Regions from separate parts of the Homo sapiens genome. Here region 1 is linked to region 2. Evidence: fine-mapped expression QTL. A gene starts in region 2. The other region holds a variant in brackets. All regions are shown on one strand. Distances are between the middles of the regions.

What was found.
Region 1: its variant is fine-mapped to the expression of DECR1 in whole blood (TOPMed, PIP above 0.99).

Annotation. Positions count from the first base shown.
Region 1 is chr8:89,972,133-89,980,132 of GRCh38, reverse strand. It overlaps NBN (nibrin), which reads left to right. Exons shown (of 16, transcript NM_002485.5): 5 at 1,810-1,913. Among named protein-coding and RNA genes, the nearest start is that of NBN, 8.5 kb to the left of the region's middle. The variant A/G (reference allele first, on the strand shown) is at 3,679.
Region 2 is chr8:89,991,230-90,005,232 of GRCh38, reverse strand. It overlaps DECR1 (2,4-dienoyl-CoA reductase 1), which reads right to left and starts at 3,756. Exons shown (of 10, transcript NM_001359.2): 1 at 3,672-3,756. The coding sequence starts at 3,740. RefSeq lists enhancers at 3,130-3,269, 4,118-4,412 and a silencer at 3,740-3,839.

The sequences.
Region 1 (8,000 bases), 22 kb after region 2:
GGTGGGGTTGTCTGTAATCAAGGGTTTTTTTATTTTTGCACATTTATGAAATTGATTTTATAAATTCAGCAGTGTGATTAGCCTCCAGAGTACTAATATATGCATATAAACTTACAAATAGTAGATTTACAAATCAAAGTGTCCATTTATGGTTTTCAGTAGGGATGCACCTTTACCAGAATATTTAAGTGTGGGCCCTAGCACAGTCCTCTTTAAGATATTACTTAAGAAATAGAGTAAGTAATCATACACTAGCTTGGTTGGTGTGAAATACAATCAAAGGTAGTTAAATTGTCTTGAGAGATATTTTACTACATCTGTGACAGACCTGGACACTTCCAGCGAGTGGGATGCTGATGACCACCTTGTGAATTGCTCCATTACACACACCAACGTGGTTTACAGAGTAATTTGTTAAAAAAAATTCCTGGTCATTCATATGCCAAAATAGAAAACCTTGTTGTTATATTTTTTTTTTTGGTAAATTTTCTGAAAGTACAGTTAGCTTATATTTTTTAAATCATTGAATGTTAGAGCCAAAAAGGAATTTAAAGACCATTTATTCTTACTATTAGCTACTTAAAAACAACAACAACAACAACAACAAAAAAAGCGTTCAGTTCAACTTTTATTTTCTGAAGTGTAAACTGAGGCATGGACCAATTAATTTCCCAAGTCACATGTATTAGAGTTTACCCAATACAGTGTTGATTTGCACATTACTGGTTCATGCTAGTTTATTTCTTTCACATTGGAAAGTGGTATCTTTCAGGTTCCATTCTTGAGAGACAATCTAAATCTGCTTGCCCCTATTTAGACAATAAAATACCCTGTGTTATTGAAAGCATATTCATGGCTGGGTGCAGTGGCTTGCGTCTGTAATCCCAGCACTTTGGGATGCCGAGGTGGGAGGATTGCTTGAGCCCAGGAATTTGAGACCAGCCTGGGCAACATAGTGAGACTCCATCTCTACAAAAAATTTTAAAAATTAGCTGGGTATGGTGGCATGTGCCTGTAGTCCCAGCTACTCAGGAGGCTGAGACAGGAGGATTGCTTGAGCCCAGGAGGTTGAGGCTGCAGTGAACCAGGATCACGCCACTGCAGTCCAGCCTGGACAACAGAGCGAGACCCTGTCTCAAAAATAAAAAAGCATATTTATATTATTCTGAATCTTATTTTCATTGCCCACTGTAGCATTTTCTAATGTTTGTCATATTTTTTGGATGTATCATATTTGAGGCTTATAGCTTAATTCACATGTGAGTTTAAGTTTCTTTTTTTCCACTTTATATGTACTTATTTTGTGCTTTTACCAAAAATTATTTTATTTACTTTCTCAAAAAGGCTTTATTGCATAGTTACAATCTTTTTGAAAGACAATTAGTCTAAAAATAGCTCATGTTCATCTCCTAATATTGTCTTCCCTGAAGCAGATATGTTACATTTCCTCAATTCTGAAATATATTTTTAACATTTTAATGTCTTCGAAAGTGGAATGCATTTTAAAATTGAATTTTATTTTATGTTGTTCCACCCTTTCCAAAAAAGCAGTTTTAAAAATTAGTATTATAATCGGTGACTTCTTATAATTGAGTGATTATACTGTGATTTATGTTCTAAAATAATGCAGTGACCAAAGACCGACTTCTATTTTATAGATTGTGGCTTCTTTATAAATTTAGAGAGATGAAAGGGAAAACATTATTTTTTATGGATGTAAACAGCCTCTTTGTAGTTTATAACTTAAAACTTTTCTTTAAAAAATGCTAGCATGTGAATATATATATTCACATGTTTTCTTCATTGTAGACAATATGTGCACTCATTTGTGGACGTCCAATTGTAAAGCCAGAATATTTTACTGAATTCCTGAAAGCAGTTGAGTCCAAGAAGCAGCCTCCACAAATTGAAAGGTATATTATGTATTTTAAATATAACAAGATGTCACTTATATGATAGCATTGATTTTTATTTAAGTTAATTCCCTCTTTAATGCTTGTTTCAGGATGTAATAGTTGCTGTGTTATAGTTCGGTATTATTAATGGAAGGTTTTTTGTTAGTTTGTAAAGAAAGAGTTCCCCAAATTTCTTTGTTGGTTATTCTGTATCTCTGAAACAAATGTTAAATATGTGCTAATATTTAAAGAAAAAAATGGAAAGACAGTAAATGGCACTGAGGTAACCTCATGGTCAGAAGAGCACATATGTCAGTTCCAGGCATCACGCCACAGTTAGCTCTGGAATTGTGTGGTGCAGCAGCCCTCTTTGCAAGCCACATAGTCCAGAATATTAACAGCACCATAGCTTTGGGAATGGAGCTTAGTTTTTCTGAGCTCCAGTTACTCATTGCAAAATTGAGAGTAATACCTACCTAGCTGAGTTAAAAAGTCAGGAAACAACAGATGCTGGCGAGGCTGTGGAGAAATAAGGCTTTTACACTGTTGGTGGGGGTGTAAATTAGTTCAACCATTATGGAAGACAGTGTGGTGATTCCTTAAGGATCTAGAACCAGAAATACCAATTGACCCAGCAATCCCATTACTGGGTATATACCCAAAGGATTAAAAATCATTCCACTGTAAAGACACATGCACACATATGTTTATTGCAGCACTATTAACAACAGCAAAGACTTGGAACCAACCCAAATGCCCATCAATGATAGACTGGGTATATGTCCATACCTATGCACATATACACCATGGAATACTATGCAGCCATAAAAGAGAATGAGTTCATGTCGTTTGCAGGGACATGGATGAAGCTGGAAACCATCATTCTCAGCAAACTAACACAGGAACAGAAAACCAAACACCGTATGTTCTCACTCATAAGTGGGAGTGGAACAATGAGAACACGTGGCCACAGGGAGGGGAACATCACATACCGGGGCCTGTTTGGGGGTGGGGGACAAGGGGAGGGAGAGCATTAGGACAAATACCTAATGCATGTGGGTCTTAAAACCTGGATGACAGGTTGATAGGTGCAGCAGACCACCATGGCACATGGATACCTATGTAACAAATCTGCATGTTCTGCACATGTATCCCAGAACTTAAAGTAACATTAAAAAAAAAATTTTAAATGTTATGCCAGTTAGGAATTTTATTGCTAATTTTAATGTGTTTTGAGCTGCTATAAGCTATTTGGCTTAATGTTAGTTTTTTAGGGACTGTTTATACCGGATAACAGCTGTCTGCTTTTAAAAGTAATAAAAAATCAGGTTTTCCTCTTTGTTTATAATTTTTATCTGGGAAGTTTTTTTGTATTTATACTCCAGTTGGCAGGTAATGTGATATATTTGGACTCTGGAAAAATATACTCAGATTTTAAAATAGAAGATTCTTAAAATTTTTTGAGTCCAAGACCCCTCAGTATGTGCCAGGTCTGACCCGCAGACCCTGACCCAGCGACAGATGAACAAATGCACTCAAACACAGGTATCCAGTGAAAGAGTGAGCTAGGGGGCTGGGCCACCCACAGACACTGAGGAGGGTGCTGTAAAGAGTTAGCAGCCGCGGTCCCGACTAGCTGTTGCTGTGGTCATTTATTCAGTATAGATATAATGGCAAAGGCTTTGAGTCAACACACTTGTGGATAATTAACATGGTTCCCCTCCCAGGAGAGAGCAGTCCTACGAATGATTAAAGGCCAGGTTCCGAGCTAAGTAACTTATCT[A/G]GATCAGTTTCTTAACATCCCGTTATCTAACCTAAGCTTTCAGGCACCGTATAAAAGAATCTGGCTGCTTTCAGCCAAATCCTGTTCCGAAACTGATGTAAAACCTTTTGGCCTTCCAAGGTTTGCATCTTTCTACATTTTTTCCCACCACCCTGACTGAACTCCTGCAAATATGAAAGCAGGCCAGCCCTGGTGGCTCACGCCTGTAATCCCAGCACTTCGGGATGCCAAGGTAGGCAGATCACTTGGGGTCAGGAGTTCGAGACCAGTGGGACCAACATACTAAAAATACAAAATTAGCTGGGTGTGGTGGCAGGTGCCTGTAATCCCAGCTGCTTGGAAGACTGAGGCTTAAGAATCCCTTGAATCCAGGAAGTGGAGGTTGCAGTGAGCTGAGATCCCACCTCTGCACTCCAGCCTGGGCGACTCAAAAAAAAAGAAGTTGAAAGCACTGATCTCACCTCAAGAAACTTCACCGACATAACTACAAACTTGCATAGTATTTTAACAGAATCACATTTTTCCCTGAAGCCTCTTGAGGAACCTCCCTGAGGAAGTACATAAATCTTGTAAATAATGACTCTAGCTGCAAATAGTGAGCTATTCTTAATTCTAGATTATACTTGAGGATAGAGGAGTCTGATAAGTTTTCACTACTAGTAGATATATTTCATGGTCTTGGAGTTTTTAGAATTAGTCGTTGATTCCTCTTTTTGTTCACATTGTCAGTTGTGTTTAACCTAAGGTTGTTTTTGACCAAGTTCAACATAATTTTTTTCTAGATTCAATTTTTGATTGTATCAATGTACATGACGACTATACAACATCCCTACCATAAGATTGTTGAATCCCTCCTAATTCGGTGTTAACTGGGACAGGTTATTTATCCTATTAACCCATATTCGATGATGGCAATTGATAATACAATTTTTAAATATATTTAGTTATTTGCCTTAATAGAGTCCTATACCTATCTGGATCCATTTTGATGTGCTTGTTGAAGGCTTATTTGTCTGAGTACTCAATTAACAGAAAAAAGATTCAATTTATAAACATTAGTAGAAGGAATGGGTTACGAAAAGGATATGAAATAAATTGTGGTGACGCCTTTGATTACATAAGTACCTCTAATGTTCCAAAAAAGCATGACTGCTAGTCCTGGATTTAAATTAGGAGGCATACTATAATATTTTTTCCAATAAAATATACAGTCCTATTTAGTACAGCTATGTCTACATCTTTGCACTGTTACCAAGAAACAGGATATGACAGTTATAACTTCATGTACATGAAATGATTTGCAATATCTCATTTTCCTTGACTGTCATCAAAGTAGTAAAGTAGATGAAGTCATTTTTAGAAGAATACATTTAAAAGGAGTGTTTAATTTCAATAATCTGTGCTCTAATAGAGGAGATTTGTATGTCTAAATGTAAGGAGATTATCCCCCAGAAAGGAGGGGGAGTTGGCTTTTATTTGAGTTTTACAAAGTCTCTCATGTTGTAGGATGGTGTATTAATTATTTCAAACAACAAGTATTGTTTTAGTGAGACACTCTTGAGAGATGGAGTCCTCCATGGGTCCCTTGCATTCATAAACAATTTGCTGAATAGGCCAAGAATGCAAAGCCTTGACCCTCCTTTACACAGACCATTTCTCAAGGGTATGTTTGCAGTGAGAAACCTCGAGGGATGAAGTAATGTTTCCTTCCTGTGACAAAATGTAGGCTTGCTTAAAGCTTGTTATAATACCGGTGGTTTCCCAAGTTCAGTGTTCCTCTCTCCTGTAACACACACCACTGTATGTACCTTTCACTGTATGTACCCTCTACGTCTTCCCTATGGGACTTGGTCAGAGAGGAGACCTGCAGCAAACATACTGGGGCTCATGCTGCTTGCTTTGCTGTGACTCAGGAGTGTTTGTCTTCTGCCAGCATCCATGAAACAGGAACAGGTTAACTTACCAGCTGATAATCAAATCTCAGACCCAACAGACACATTGGCCTGAAATAATCTCAGTAAATGAAAGTTTGACAGTTTAGGAAGCTTATAGAAGTCACCTTACATAGTTAATTTAAATCGAAGGTAAGAAATATGACTAGTATTAGTAATTTTTTTCAGGATATGGAACCTCACATTTGCAAATTGTGGATGTCACTGTAGTCTAGCCTTTTCAAGATCACCAAAAAAAAAAAAAAAAAAAAGCCATATAGTAAATGGTTCTAGAAATTATGAACATATGCCTGCAGGACTAATGAAATAAACAGCTGTCCAGATATTGAACAAATAAGTATGTGTGGCTTGGGATACAGTTTCTAGAGCCAGAATTATACATGGATTCAGAAAAATTCTGTATTTGCAAAATCTTCGTACAGAAGTGAAAATGATATACTGTAGGTTAGATGAAATTTATTGAAGATCATGTAAAGAATTTAAATAGAAAATGTGAATGGGAAAAAGCAAAATTTCTAGATTAATATCATTTTATAGAATGTATGATTCATAATATGTACCAGTTACTGTGTAATAAAACATAATTATTTGTAGCTCTTAAAGTTTCTGTATAAACGAACCCAAAACATTTTAATTTTTTAATGATAGAAATTGGAGATCACTTTATATTTGTAGTATCGTTATATTCAGTCAATATGCCTCTAGCCTAGGTCTCTGACAGGTTACTTTCCTATTTTCCAGTTTTTGTACTAGTTTATTAAATTACTAGAGTGTCAGAAATGCTTTAAAACTTCTAGAATGTAATGCTTCAGACGTAATGATTTTCAATGATCTCTTCACATTCATCACTAGTCTTTTCTTTCTTGCTCTCATCATTACACTGGTAAAGAGAAAAAGGCTTATGTAGGTATTTGAAATTCTAGAACATAGTGTTTTTTGATCACTGTGTTATCAATTATCTATGTATGAATGTGTCTATCATATATCAAATGTAGGTATTACTAAGAATAACCCATGTTGGAGTCATAGCCAGCATTTGGTTAGCTTCTAGATAATACAGTTTTGTATTTTTTTGTTCAAGATTGATCTTACCAAGTATTGGGGCTCAAATTTATCAGTGTTCTCAAAACAAAACCAAAATACATTGTTCAAGTTCTAGAATTTTAATACTTAAATCTATACTTGAGGGAATTGAAGGATGTTTATACTTTTTATTCACTTTTAAATTATTAAGTTGAATTTTTATTTATATTTTGTAATGTCAGTTTATTTGTAAATATGTATTGAATGCCTACAGTGAAGCAGGCAAGATAGACTTGTGGATATAATGATGAGCCAAAAAAAGTTACAGTTTCTGCCCTCATGGCACTTAGTGGAGAAGCCAGCTGTTAAAGAATGACACTAATAAAGTTAGAACTCTGGTAGAGCCATTAGAGAGGCCTAACAGGCTACCATACACATATGTTTAGGAACCTGGCTCAAACTTCATCGAACTAAGCTACAGTTAGCTGCTCCCTGGCTACTGTAAACTGTTATCTATGGCATAATTAAGAATGACAGTGTGAATAATAGAAAGCTGTAGATAATTTAAAAATCATTCAACTTTAGTGTTTTGGGAAAGCAGGAAGAATCTCACATCTACTCAGTCATAGTTTTATAGTCATGTTTGACTGTAACACACAGTCATATGTGTTAAACATTTCCTTACTGTTTTTGTCTGTAACTGGCTCTGTAATCTGTCCTAGTGTTGTTACATTATTGTGTGAACTAATTGGTAAACTAGTTATTTGTATATAAGTAAAGTGTTAGTTGGCTTTTACACTAAGAAAGAAGTATAAGTTATGGGGGAATATTTATTAGGAGATAAAGGATAAAAAGGATTCAAAGAGATATTAAAATTGATCCTTTTTATGTGTCCGAATGTCTACTAACTTTCCAGTGCTCTTATTGTAGATTTAGTTTTTGTTAACAGTTAAAATAGTTTCCACTGTTCTCTGTATATTTTAAAAGTAAAATAAATAGAATTTTAAAGTCGGTTGTTTAGAAAAACCATAACTAACGCAGTTGCCTGCATTCTGTCCTGCCAAGTGAGTCTGCTCTTGCCTGCAGATAACTCATTTGAGATTGCAGCTTCCAGAAATCATTGCTTTAAAACAGACTTACAGCATCTATTGTAGTGAAATTAAAATACATGCATCAGTTATCAAAAAAATTTTAAAGTATTGTAACTCTTCAATCATAACTTAGCTTTACTTTATGAAATATGTATGTTTCCAAGGAGAAGTCCAGGGGAAAGATGTAAGGTAATTAGTTCTAAAGTGCTGGATAGTGACTCTTAATGACTGCAGTGTTTTTACCACGTTGGATGTT
Region 2 (14,003 bases):
CCCCCAGCAACCTGACTGATCTCGTCTCCACACGCTTCTCTCTGTTCCCATACTTCACCAACTCCACAATACCAAACAAACCACTTGAATTTTTATAAATAAGCCACTCTTTCACTTCTTGATACATGCTATTCCTTAGGTCTATATTGCCATTGGGACCACACAAATTCCAACTCCTGATTTAACAGCAGGCTCCTGGGGCCACCTCCTCCATGAAGCTTTCCTTGCCTCCTCTAGGTATGTACAGTTTGGGTCATATATGCATTATAATACACATCTGCATCTTCACAGTCTATTGATGTCTGCTGGTGACTCACTAGACTATCATTTTTCAGATTTTTCTGACTGTGAACCATAGCAAGAAATGTGATTTATATAGCAACATACACATGTTCATAGCAACACAGTACACACGTTCATTCATGTAACAGATATTTGTTACATGTTTACTCTATGCTAAGCACTGTTCTAGGTATAAACAGTGGACAAAACAGTTGAAAATCTTTGCCTGCATAGAGCTTATATTCCAGAATTTTACACTGAATAAAGAAATACTTAGGCTTCCAGATTTAAAAAAAATAAAGAAAACACATCTAGTTGGTTTTATACTGCTCCAAGACAATATTCATCGTGAGAAAACAATGAAACAATGTTGACTAAGGGAAAATGTGACATCCAAGTAAAATTATGCCTATCCATCCTTTTACCAGAACAGATGCCTGGAATGATATACACCAAATGCTAACCCAAGTTAATTCTAGGTGGCCAGTTTGAGGTCATATCTTACTTTGTTAACTGTATTGCTGAATATTGGCCAGGAATCATTTTTCTAAAAATAGTGATTTTACTCTTGATAGTTACTATTCTTTTTTTTTTTTTTCTTTTTGAGATAGAATCTCACTTTGTTGCCCAGGCTGGAGTGCAATGGCGTGATCTTGGCTCACTGCAACCTCTGCCTCCTAGGTTCAAGTGATTCTCCTGCCTCAGCCTCCTGAGTAGCTCCTGCCTCAGCCTCCTGAGTAGCTGGGATTACAGGCACGCGCCACCACGCCCGGCTAATTTTTATATTTTCAGTAGAGACAGGGTTTCACCATGTTGATCAGGTTGGATAGTTATTACTCTTGATAAAAACAAAAGGAAAAGAAACATGGCAGTGTGCATGATAGTAATCAAAGAATGAATCAAAAAAGGAAGAATGGTAAATTTTTTTTTTAAAGTTTCACAAAATGAACAACCTTACTACATGAGATGAATTTAGATATATCCTATTCTATTCCATTTTTTTGTTTTTGAGATGGAGTCTCACTCACTCTATCGCCAGGTTGGACTACAGTGGCGCGACCTCAGCTCACTGCAACCTCTGCCTCCCAGGTTAAAGCGATTCTCCTGCCTCAGCCTCCCAAGTAGCTGGGACTACAGGCGTGTGAAACCACACCCAGTAATTTTTGTATTTTTACTAGAGACAGGGTTTCACCATGTTGGCCAGGATAGTCTTGATCTCTTGATCTAATGATCCACCCGCCTCAGCCTCCCAAAGTGCTGTTTTGCTCCACTAAATTGATTTCAAGGCCTACTCATTGGTTATTATTTGTGGCTTAAAATACATATATGAGACTATAGTACATTGAAGGCAGGAATGTCTTTCAACCACAAATTGCCAAAGAATGCCCAATACTTAATAGGTACTTAATTAATTAGTGTTTCCTCATAAACAACTGAATGACTGAATGTTTTCCTCAATAGAACTGAGAGCAACTTGAGAACAGTTGAGAGCAGGGCTCGTATTTTTTAAATTTTGAGTCCCAGGGCATAGCACAGGGCCAGACATAAAGCCAGTCCTCAATAAATATTTATTAAATTGAAATGAGGCCTATTAGCCAGCAGCACAATTTAACACAGCACTTCACAAACAGGTTTTATAACAAATTAAACATTTGCCTTGGTTCTTGGTAACAAAAATATTCAAATTAGGGGTTTTAATTATAACAACTTGTATTTGCCCACAAAAACATGATGTTCCCTGGAACAACCTCCCACATCACAGATGTAAAGACTTTTCTTCTCCCAGGAATTCAAACTTGAGGCTACATGTGCTAGGAAGGGGACAAACCACACTAACAGGTACCTCTCTTGCCTCCCAACCCTGAACCTCAAAACTTCCATATTTTTCTTCAGCAAAGGAATTTCAAAATTGTCAGATTACAATTAATTTTTAAATGAGTTCATTTTCTCCTTCTCAAACTGTATTGTCTAATGGTGTCAGAAGAGCTTGGATAAGGTCTGTATGACCTTATTGCTACAATCCTAATGATGTGTGTTAAAAAATGAAATCTCTGAAGACATCACAGAGCTGTTGTAGATTTCAAATGAGAAATGTCTCTGAAAAGTATCAGAAAATATGGGCTTCCTTTATAATGATCTATAACCCAGTTTTCACAGGGAGAGAAAAAAAATCAGCAAAACCCTAACCCTGAACAAATCTCACTTTTTAAAAGAAAGATACCTTACTTGAGGGAACCACCATACTAATTCTTTGTATTCCTATTTGGAACTACTGCTGCCCATATTTTTTGAAAAACAACACCATGGCTGTCTATTCTATCAAATCAAAAGAAGTTTTTTCACAGTTGACATATTAATTTTTCTACCTGGCTAAAGAAAATGTGCTTTTTAGTTTACTTATAACAATTTTGTAATTTAGATGTGGGGAGGGCTTGTCTTGGATATTATTGCTTCTTTTTGTTTTTGTTTCTCTTTCTTCTTCCTAGCTGTTTTCACTTCCTAGCTATTTCCACTATGGGTGCAATGGAGATGGTGACAGGAGTGTGGGCCAGAGAGAGGGGGAAGCCAGTGTGAGACGGACCTCTCCCAGCTATACATCTGGGAAGGGGAGTCTATAAACAGCTGGGGTTTTGTTTTTGTTTCATTTTTATGATAATTTGTTTGTATTAGTGTTTAATTCCATAACTAACACATAGATGGACTTTCCTCACAACAAAGGACGTCAAAGGTCAGTGCTCGCTCGGCCTGATCCCCTCTCACTCCTTAAGGGGTGGACGGGCGCCGTATCCTTCCCTACCTCTTTCTACCTATTTACACACAAGTTGGAAACTTGCAGAACTGTGAAAACTTCGAAAATCACGTCTCTTCCCTATTCCCCTACACACATCAGGGCTTCATCTGACAGTGGAATACGACCCGGGCCCCGGTGCTCACTCCCGGCGTTGCCCTTCGCTCCGGGACCTGGTGGTCCTCTCTCTCTGCGCCCCAAAACGCCCTGTCCTAGCTCCCTGAGCCCCAGGGACGCCGGGTCCTCTCTTTGTGCCCCAAGACTTCCTGCCCTTTCTCTTGCGCCCCGAGACGTCCTGTCCTCTCTCTCGCTCCCCGGGTTGCTCTGTGCTCTCTTAGCGCTCCAGAACGCCCTGTCCTCTCTCTTTGAGCCCCGGGACACCCTGTCCTCGCTCCCCGAGGCCCCGGGACGCCCTGTCCTCTCTCTCTCTGCGCCTCGGGATGCCCTGTCCTCGCTCCCCGAACCCCCGGGACGCCCTGTCCTCTCTCTTTGCGCCCCAGGATGCCTTGTCCTCGCTCCCCGAGCCCCCGTGACGCCCTGTCCTCTCTCTTTGCGCGTCGAGACGCCCTGTCCTCGCTCCCCGCGCCCCCGGCCGCCTTACCCTCCGAGGAGCGAGGCCACAGGGCAGCCGGGACCCCAGAGTAAAGAAAACCCTGGCCGGTAGCTTCATGTTGAGTCTCCAGAACTCGGGCCGGAAGGCGGCGCAGGCGGTTGGGCGCAGGGGGCGGGACAAAAAGAACAAAGTTCTCGGGGCTGGAAACGCTGCCTAGGCCGCCGGGGGATGGGACGGGGACTGGGACCCAGGCGGCGTGGACGCCCAGCGGCCCTGACCTTCAGAGTCCGGCCGAGGGCGCCGCCTAGCTGGGCCTAGCTGATGCTCTTTCCTGCTCTCTGGGCCAGGAGTGCTTTGTATGGCAGAGAATGGAGGTTCTTTGCGTCCTTGAGCGGGTGTACGAAACCCCGCGCCCTGCAAGGGTTTGCAGATTGCAGCTGCGCACCCCATACACTGCCTATCAAGGGCGAAACTCTTTTTCAGTCGTATGTGTTTATCCCTTAAGTGCGTGTTTAAGTGCAGAGTGCGCGTGGCGCCAAGTCACATATTATCAGAATAATAATATGTTGGATGTAAAACACGGCCTCACTTTCCCTAAGACCAAGAGGCTGAAAAACACTAAGGGCAGCTTCCGGCGTTTTGACTTTTCGCAGGACACACCGCCCCCTGTCGCCGGATGCAGCGTGACTGCGACCGCCCAGCCTTGGCTTTTTTCTCGAAGTTAAACACACGTTAAAGGCAAACACAGATTCAGTATATCATTCTCCATCTTAGTGTAATATACCTGTTGACACAAGGCATTAGCTCAGATCACATTTCTTTCCTCATTCGTAAAATGAGAATATTCATAGCTAATTCAGAATTTTAGATAAAAGAAGATGGGTGTGAGGCCCCAGGCTGAGGCTGATGGTAGATGATATTGAGTGTTTACTATTTGCCTGGCATGTTCCAAATGCTGATAAAGAAACATTTATATCTTCAGAGGAATGTACACTTACATGTAGACATATAGCTTATAAGGTATATAAACTCTGAAAAACTTTGTAATTTTGAGTTGGTCTGGTGATAATTTCCAGGCCTTCTGCCTGTAACTGGTTACAGAAATAAAAACTTTCTTCATCCCCAGTTCATCGACATCTCATTATTGGCAGCAAGAAATAGCAGCCTGACCCTCAGTTTGGTCCAGGAACAAAACTACCACAGATTGGGTGGCTTAAATGGAAATTTGTTTTCTCACAATTCTGGAGGCCACAAGTCAGCAGAGTTGGTTTCTTGTGGAGCCACTGTGGGACCATCTTCTCCCTGTGTCTTTACATGATCCTCCTGTGTACCTTTCCATATCTAAATTGCCTCTTCTTATGAGGACACCAGTCGTGTTGGATTAAGGCCCACCCTCAATGACCTAATTTAACTGGAATTACCTCCCTAAAGACTCTATCTCCAAATATAGCCACATTCTGACATACTGGGGGTTAAGAGTTCAATGTATATATTTGGCTGGGAGAAGAGGGAAGTACACAATTCAGCCCAGAACACTTGCCCTCTTAAATAACTTTTAGACCAGCTTAGGAGGCATTTTCTGTCCTCCCAAAAAAACCTTGAGAATATATCAATAATAAAACTTTTCCTAAGCTCTTGATATATGTATGGCACTGTTATTCTTGACTTCCAAACCAAATTGTAAGTGGGATTCATCTTGTTTCTAAAAAGAAGTTGCAACATTAGTGATACGGTTTGGATTTGTGTCCCTACCCAAATCTCATGTTGAATTGTAATCTCCAGTGTTGGAATTGGGGCCTGGTAGGAGGTGATTGGATCACGGGGACAGATTTCTTCCTTTGGTGCTATTCTCCTGATAGAGTTCTCAGGAGATCTGGTTGTTTAAAAGTGTGTGGCACCTCCCACCCTCTCTCTTCCTCCTGCTCCAGCTGTGTAAGACAGCCTGCTTCCCCTTCATCTTCCACCATGATTGTAAGTTTCCTGAGGCCTCTCAAGTCATGCTTCCTATATAGCCTGCAGAACTGTGAGTCAATTAAACTTCGTTTCTTTATAAATTACTCAGTATGAGGTATTTCTTTATAGCATTGTGAGAATGGAGTAACACAATAAGTAACTTAAAACAATTAATCATTTATTATCTCACAGTTCCCAGGAGTTAGGAGTCTAGGCACAGCTTAGCTGGATCCTTGGCTCTGGGTCTCAGAAGACTGCAATCAAGGTGTCAACTAGGCTGTTTTTATCTGGAGGCTCAGCTGGAGAAGATCTGATCCCAAGCTCATCCAGATTGTTTGCAGAATTATTTTCCTCATAACCATATAACTGACAGCCCCACATTTTTGCTGGATGTTGGCTGGAGTTGCCTTCAGCTTCTAGAAGTCACCTCCATCCCTTCCCATGTGGGCTTCCTCAGCAGACTGCTTACTACATCAAGCCAGCAAGGACAATTCTGTACCTCAGGGAGGCCCCAGCCCATCTTTTAAGGACAATCACCAGATTAAGTGAGGCCCACTGAAAATAGTCTTAACCCCTTTTTGATTAACTAAAATCAACTGACTTGGGACTGCAAACCAAAAAGTGACTGAGGCAGATCTCTGTGGGTTAGCGATCATTTAGCCAAGGTTGAGAACATGTCTGGGAAAAAAATGCAACTCACAAGAGCATCTGTAACCTATGCTTTTTCCAAAGGGGGTTTTGGGAAATTCTTTATTTAAAAAAGAAAGAGCAAGCAGGAGAGAAAAAAAAAAAAAGGAAGAGAGGGTAGACAGTGAGGCAGATGGTTCCATTCTTTTGAGGCTCTGATTAGCCTCAGTAAATCTACATTTTACATAAGATAAAGTAAACATGTGAAAAGAGGGAGTAGAGGAAATGATGCTATGTCTTGGGATTATGAAATTACAGCTATCAGTTTGGGAACAACGACAACAAAAAAGACAGTATTGGTGACTGAGTTTCCAAGCTTAACTTTCCTTATGGCATAGTGAGTTCACAGTCCCTATATTCTGTTTTTCTTTCACAGGATCTTAGTTGCATCTGCACAATTCTTTCACCTTTGCCATATACTGTTAACTAGAAGTGAGTCACAGTTCCTGTCCATACTTAAGGGAAGGGAATTATACAGAGCATGAATTCCAGGGACTGGGACTCATGGGACCATCTTAGAATTCTGTCTACCACAACCATACATTAGACATGAAAAAGAAGTTTGCAAAAGTTTTAGGTAGACCCCCTGTATTAGTCCATTCTTGCATTCCTATAAAGAAATATCTAAGACTGAGTAATTTATAAGAAAAGAGGTTTAATTTGCTCATGGTTCTGCAGGCGGTACAGGAAGCATGGTGGCATCTGCTTCTGGGGAGGCCTCAGGAAGCTTCCACTCATGGAAGGCAAAGGGGCACACTTTTAAATGACTAGATCTCAGGAGAATTCCCTCACTATGGTGAAGATAGTACCAAGTGGAATAGTGCTAAACCATTCATGAGAAACCTGCCCCCATGATCTAATCACATTCTACCAGGCTCCACCTCCAACACCAGGCATTACATTTCAATATATGAGATTTGGGTGGGGACACACATCCAAACTACGTTACCCACACTCTACAATCTAGTCAGAGGGAAATAGCTACATAAAACACTTAGGCAGCCTGGACTCTGGGTTCTGTTTTACTGTCGTTCTCCAAGCTTGGTACAGAAGCAGAGGGTTGGAACCTCAAAGGAATAAACCAGTTAGGAAAAATATAACCACTAGGAACTGAAAATCAGAGAGGCCTCCCCTAAAGGCCTGTATAGGACTTGGTGTCCTTCTTATGATACCGAGAGGGAAGAAAGGAGACAGGGCACTAAAGATGACTAAGGTTGAATTTCCCACAATTCCCACAATCATGGAGGAATGGATAGGGCTAGGAATGGAATTTAAATAAAATAAAATAAAATGATATTACCTTCATCCTTGAATATATGGTTGAATATTTATACCACTAGCTTGTCTTGAATATGAACAGAAAAAATGGTTATATTATTTTTAATTTTTAATATTTCCTGAAATCAAAAGGCCTAAAAGTGGGGTTCATCTTGTTTCTAAGAAGAAGTTGCAACATTGGTGATATGATTTGGATTTGTGTCCCTACCCAAATCTCATGTCGAATTGTAATCCCCAATGTTGGAATTGGGGCCTGGTGGGAGGTGATTGGATCATGAGGACAGATTTTTCCCTTTGGTGCTATTTCTTCTGATTTCTTATCTGATGGTTCAGCCTTAGTGACTGGCAGACTCCTACACTCCAGCAATGGCTGCTCCCCTCACACACATGCCTCCTCTCCCCACTTTCACATCATCACCCTAGTATGGCTGCCTCTGACCCCATAATCAGGGGTCAGCTTTGATTTTGTTTTCTCAGGAAAAGTTACCTTGACTTCTACACTAATTCAGGTCTTCCTACTAGGGAAGCATCCAAGTTTGGTGGTACCTGAAGCTTATAAACTTTGGGAAGCCATTTAAGAAAAAGATTACAAAATTAGATGCAAAAATGAATATTAACTTACAATATAAGAAGAAATTAGAACAAATTACAAATTCCAAAAAATTTACAGTATCCTAAATTTCACACAAATATAAAGTAATGTTTCAAACTACTTAAATGTCTAACACATCTCTAATTGCAATTTCCGTCTACATTTCGGAGCTGCATTCTCTTTGATCACCTCTTCCTTTATTGAAGATTTTATAAGCATATTTTTAATAGAGAGAATAAGGAGTTCAAGTGCTAAATCATACCTCACACACACTTAGATTTGCCACTCATAGGACCACCACAGATTTGTATCTGGCCAAGACAGAATTTCTAAAAATTTCTATTGTATGCAATTATTATCATATTTTTAAAAAGCATGGTGCATTCATAATAGTAAACACTAAATTGTGAATATTCATGATGGGGACAAACTTCTGTTTTGACTATGCATCCATGAAACCATATCCTCTGCTAACACTTTTACATAATTTGATACTAGCTTATGGCTTCATACACTTTAAACAATTCAAACTTTGCTTCTCCTCCAATTCCCATTTACTTCCAGAGCTGAGTACCACTGGACACTTCTACATTTCAATACCACCTCTGGCCCTGCACATAAATGTCACAAGGTGGGCAGAAAGTATAGTCCAGTCTGCTGGAAGACAGCCCCACCAAAGGACAGTATAGAGCATTAACTCTATAGTGAAGTGACAACAAACCACACAAGTATTTCTGAACTGATCTAAGAAATAAATTAATTCCCCAATTCAGTTTAGCAGACACCCCAACTGCTGGTGACCACTCCAACATCATCCAACATGAGAGGAATTTTGACAGAAATAGGAATGGAAAGAGAATTATTTTAACTCCTTTTGTTAAAATAACTTACTTTTGTGAATTTTACTGGAAAAAAGAAATGGCCCTGGGGCCTTGGAAGAGCTGTGCAAGCAAGAGGCCCTGAAATTTACTAGCTTCAGGTAAATCAGCCCTTGCCTTAGCTGTATGTTTTCATAGGGCACTGAATTTCCCTTTTGGGGGCTCTTGTTACAATTGCAATTGCGTCTTTCTCTTATATATTAGCAGCTGTGGGGCGGGGTGCCTACCTTTTTAAATTTACCATCCTTCTATCCCTCATATCTAGCACAATGTTTGGTGCATGGTGAGCCATCAAACACTTTGTTGAATGAGGTACTGAGACTGTTACCATTTTCTAATGAGGTTATTACAAAAGTAATTTAGAGGAGAATGTGCAGCAGTCATAGGCACTACTAAGGAACAGATGAGGGGCATAAAACCAAGAGGCCGTTCGAAATGCAGTAAGTTACAGTATTTCCATGAGGGGGAGCCATGGAGCCTGACTTCAGTGTCTGAGGATCTATTTTTCATGAAAGCTAGTGTTTCCCCACTTTTTCTGTATGTCAGATTCTGCACACAGTCTGTGTACACATTTCACTAATCGTCACAAGCACTTATAAGGCTTATATTATCAGCATTTGGGAAACTGAGGCACAACACAGGTAGGCAAACTGTCCAGCTAGTAAACAACGGTGATGGAATCTGAACCCAGCCTTGTCGCGCTATAGGGCCCCTGTTTTCAGCCACTGTATTTTACTCTGTGCTAGTGGGGTAGAACCTCGGGAGTCAGACTGCTGGGGTTTAAGCCAAGCTACATGTCTCACTAGATGTATAATGTTTAGCCAGTTACAAACTTTCTCATTTGATTCCCTTATCTGTGAGATGCAGATACAATAGTAAGGGTGTCAACTTCACAAGCTTCTACTCAGATTTAAATGACATAATATATTTAAAGCACTTAGAACAGAACATGACACATACAAAACAGCCAGCAAACGCTCGCTATCATCATGCACATGGAGAATGGCCAGTAATTAGCCCAGAATTAGCATAGAATCCCTGATACTACTATGTAATGATTTTTCTTTTCTCACAGAATCACAAGCTATAACTACTAAGCAAATTCAACAGGATTATTACCCATGAAATAAACTACCTTAAGGGAGAAAAAGAAAAACCTACAAAAGGCCTTGCCAAAAGCATTGGTGTCTAGAAATTATGCTTAGTGCAATTATATATATAACGTATTATATATTATATAATATATATTACATGTTATATATAATATATATTATTTATATTATATATAACATGTAATATATATTATATTAAATATTATATATAATATATATTATATTAAGTATATTTATATTAAATATAATATATTATATTATATTAAATATAATATATTATATTAAATATAATATAATATATTATAGTAAATATATATTAAATATAATATATTATAATTATAATATAATATATGGTATATAATATATTAATAATACATATTATATATAATATATCATATATAACATATAATGTATCATATATGATATCATATATAATATATGTTATATTATATTAGTGCATATATAATTGCACTAAGCATAATTTCTAGACACCAATGCTTTTGGCAAGGCCTTTTGTAAGTTTTTATTTTTCTTCCTTAAGGTAGTATATTTTATTTTAAGTATAATATATATAATATATTAATATATTATATAATAATATATTATATATTATTATATTTAATATATTATATATTTATATAATATATTATAATTATTATATATAATATATATAATATATTATATATAATTATTATATATAATATATTGTATATTATATGTTATATATATAATATATATTATATATATATTATATATAATATATTATTATAAATTATATATATAATTTATTATATATAAATTATATATATAATTTATTATATATAAATTATATATATATAATTTATATATAATAAATTATTATTAGATATAAATGTTATATATATATATTAGACGGAGTTTTGCTCTTGTTGCCCTGGCTGAAGTGCAGTGGCATGATCTTGGCTCACTGCAAACTGCGCCTCCCGAGTTCAAGCAATTCTCCTGCCTCAGCCTCCCAAGTAGCTGGGCTTACAGGTACCTACCACCAAGCCCAGCTAATTTTTGTATTTTTAGTAGAGACAAGGTTTCACAATGTTGGCCAGGCTAGTCTTGAACTCCTGACCTCAGGTGATCCAGGCAATCCAGGTGATCCACCCGCCTCGGCCTCCCAAAATGCTGGGATTACAGGCATGAGCCACCTTGCCTGGCCAGTGCAGTTTAATATTTTTGTTAGAGTCTAAAAAAAAAAAAAAAAGACACACAGTATCCAAAATACAGAGTTGTGTTTGAATGAAATTAAAGTTCACAGCTTCTGCCCCAGGAAAACAGGTTGAAGAGGGTGATCAGGCTTAGCCAGCTTGGGAATGTAAAGGCAAACACAAATTAAGAATAAGAGGCTTAATTCTTCCTGTTGAAAATAAAGGAAGAGGTTTCCCTTCCTCCCTTTGCTTAAAGCATTTGCCTTATAAATCTTGTCATTGCAAATTCTTTCGTTGTCTCTTTGAAATGTATGCAAATCTTTTTTTTTTTTAAGGCTAAGTAAGCCTCTTGCCAGCCTTACAATGCAGCAGTGTCTAAGGACCCTACAGCCACTCCTTTGCAAAGTAATAATCAAAGAAGATAGTGGCCCTATCCTATCTCCTATTTCTGTGGGAGAGTAGGAGCCTAACTTAAGCTGTTTACCTGGCTTCAAGTTGAAACCTACCCCCAGTCGTAAAGATAAAATAAGTTAATTTTTCCTTTAAATCAACCCAATTAGTTAATAAGGGTGATAACCCTAATTATCAAGTGAATTTGGTATGAACAAGGTGTGACAAAGGGTGCTATCAAGTCCTCTTACTTGAGGACTAATTATTGTTCCTCTTAAGAACACGTATGAAATGGTTGTATCTGCTTGCCTATATAAAGTGTGAGATTTATTTTTGTCTTCACAATCTCTAGTCAATTGCTTGTGGGTCTACTGGGGTGCCAGGAGATTTTGTTTTTAACTGGACATCCCCAACAGCAGTAAGCTGCAAGCAAACCCCTTGGCACCCAGCCCCAAAGCCATGTTGTTACACCAGCCTGTGCTGCTGTGGTGAGGAAGACCCACACCTTTCAGAAATGGACAGAGGGTTGCTCCACATTATTTTGGAAATAGAATAAATAGACTGAGACACTCTTTGACTGATATCTGACTCACTACTGAAGAATATCAGTAAGGCCCACCTGAAAGGGAGAGTCATGCTTACTTCTGGTGGAAGGTGCCAGACATGTGATTGCTGACGTCCTTAAAGGGCAAGTCTGAGTCGGGGAAAAGGGAGCTACAGTTAATAATGTTCCTCCCTCTGGATTTTTGCTTTTTTTTTTTTTTTTTCCTAGAGACCGGCTCTCACTATGATGCTCAGTCTGGCCTTAAACTCCTGGGCTCAAGCAATCCTCCTGCCTCAGCCTCCAGAGTAGCTGGGATTACAAATGTCAGTCACTGTGCTAGGCCTCTCTGGTTTTTTATCCTGCCTTCACTCCCCAGATTGCACATCACAGGAATTGCTCAAGAGTTGTGCTGTGCTCCAGGAACTAAGTCCATTCCATTTGGGAGCTGAAGGGATTGAAAGAGAGCTGCACTGAGAAGCAAAACAGCTGATGATACTGTTCTTGTCACAACTCTGTGACAAATTGGCTTTCTGTTACTGGACAAATTAACTTTTATCAGCTTTATTTTCCTCATCCATAAAACTAGGGTGTTTGCATAAATGAGATCAGTATAGAACTATAATATCGCTTGTAGGTCTAAAAATCTGTGATTTTGCAAATAAACTAGATTTGGCAGAATTGCTATAGGTAACCTGGTGTGGTACTAAGGAGTTCATTGTGAAATGCTGTTAAAATAAAATAGCTTAAATATATATAACATATTATATATAATATTAGCTCTTATGTATCTCTGGTGTTTGAATATTTCATCTAATTTACACATTTTAGGTAAATATTAAGCTTCAGAGTTTCAAAGTGCTTTGTAATTGTTAATTCGCTTCTTGAATGACTTCTGCAAGGGAGGCTTGCCCATGATCCCATTACATAGACTTATTTGTTCTCATTCAGTAAAGCCAAATCTTATACTCTGCAATTTGGAGTCTTATATTCTTTTATCTTTCAATTAAAAAAAAAAACTATGATTAAACAGCCAATACGATTCAAGTAATCCATTGATGTTTCAATTAATTCTACTGCTTATGCACAGATTAATCATACATATATTGTTATATCCCCATATAAAGAAGAAACAAGACACATAGAAGTTAAATTATTTATTCTAGTAAAATATATAATTATTATAGCAAAATCATTATAGTAAAGTAGAATGAGCATTGAGACACAAAAATAGAACTCATTGCTCCTTACTATCAGACATATTCAGAATAATAAAGATACACCTTGAATCAACACTTGATCTCCACATGCTTCTCATTCACCCACACTCCACACCCCACCGACCTTCACAGTTGCAATCTAAGTAAAAGTTGGAAAGAGGTTCAATGAGTAGTTAAGTTTAACAAAGAGTTATGCATCTTCCATGTGTTCATCACTATGGTAAATATGAGAAACAAAAGTGATTTAGACAGTAGGAACACAGACATGTCTTAGACACCAGCCCTTCCCTCATGGAACTATAAAGGAAGAAAAGGAAAGTCACATTTGCTTAACAACTACCATATATAATATAGTGTCTTGTGGAAGGAAAATAAAATCACTATGCCAAAAGGGAAAAGTTAAGCTCAGAAACTGAGTCATGAAAAAATATTTTTAAAAACCAAAACTACCTTTCCTTTTGTCTTAAACTGACAGATGGCCACGTATCTCCAAAGGGGACCTCCCTCATCCGATGATGTAAATTAACACGTTATCTTCACAAGTATGGGAC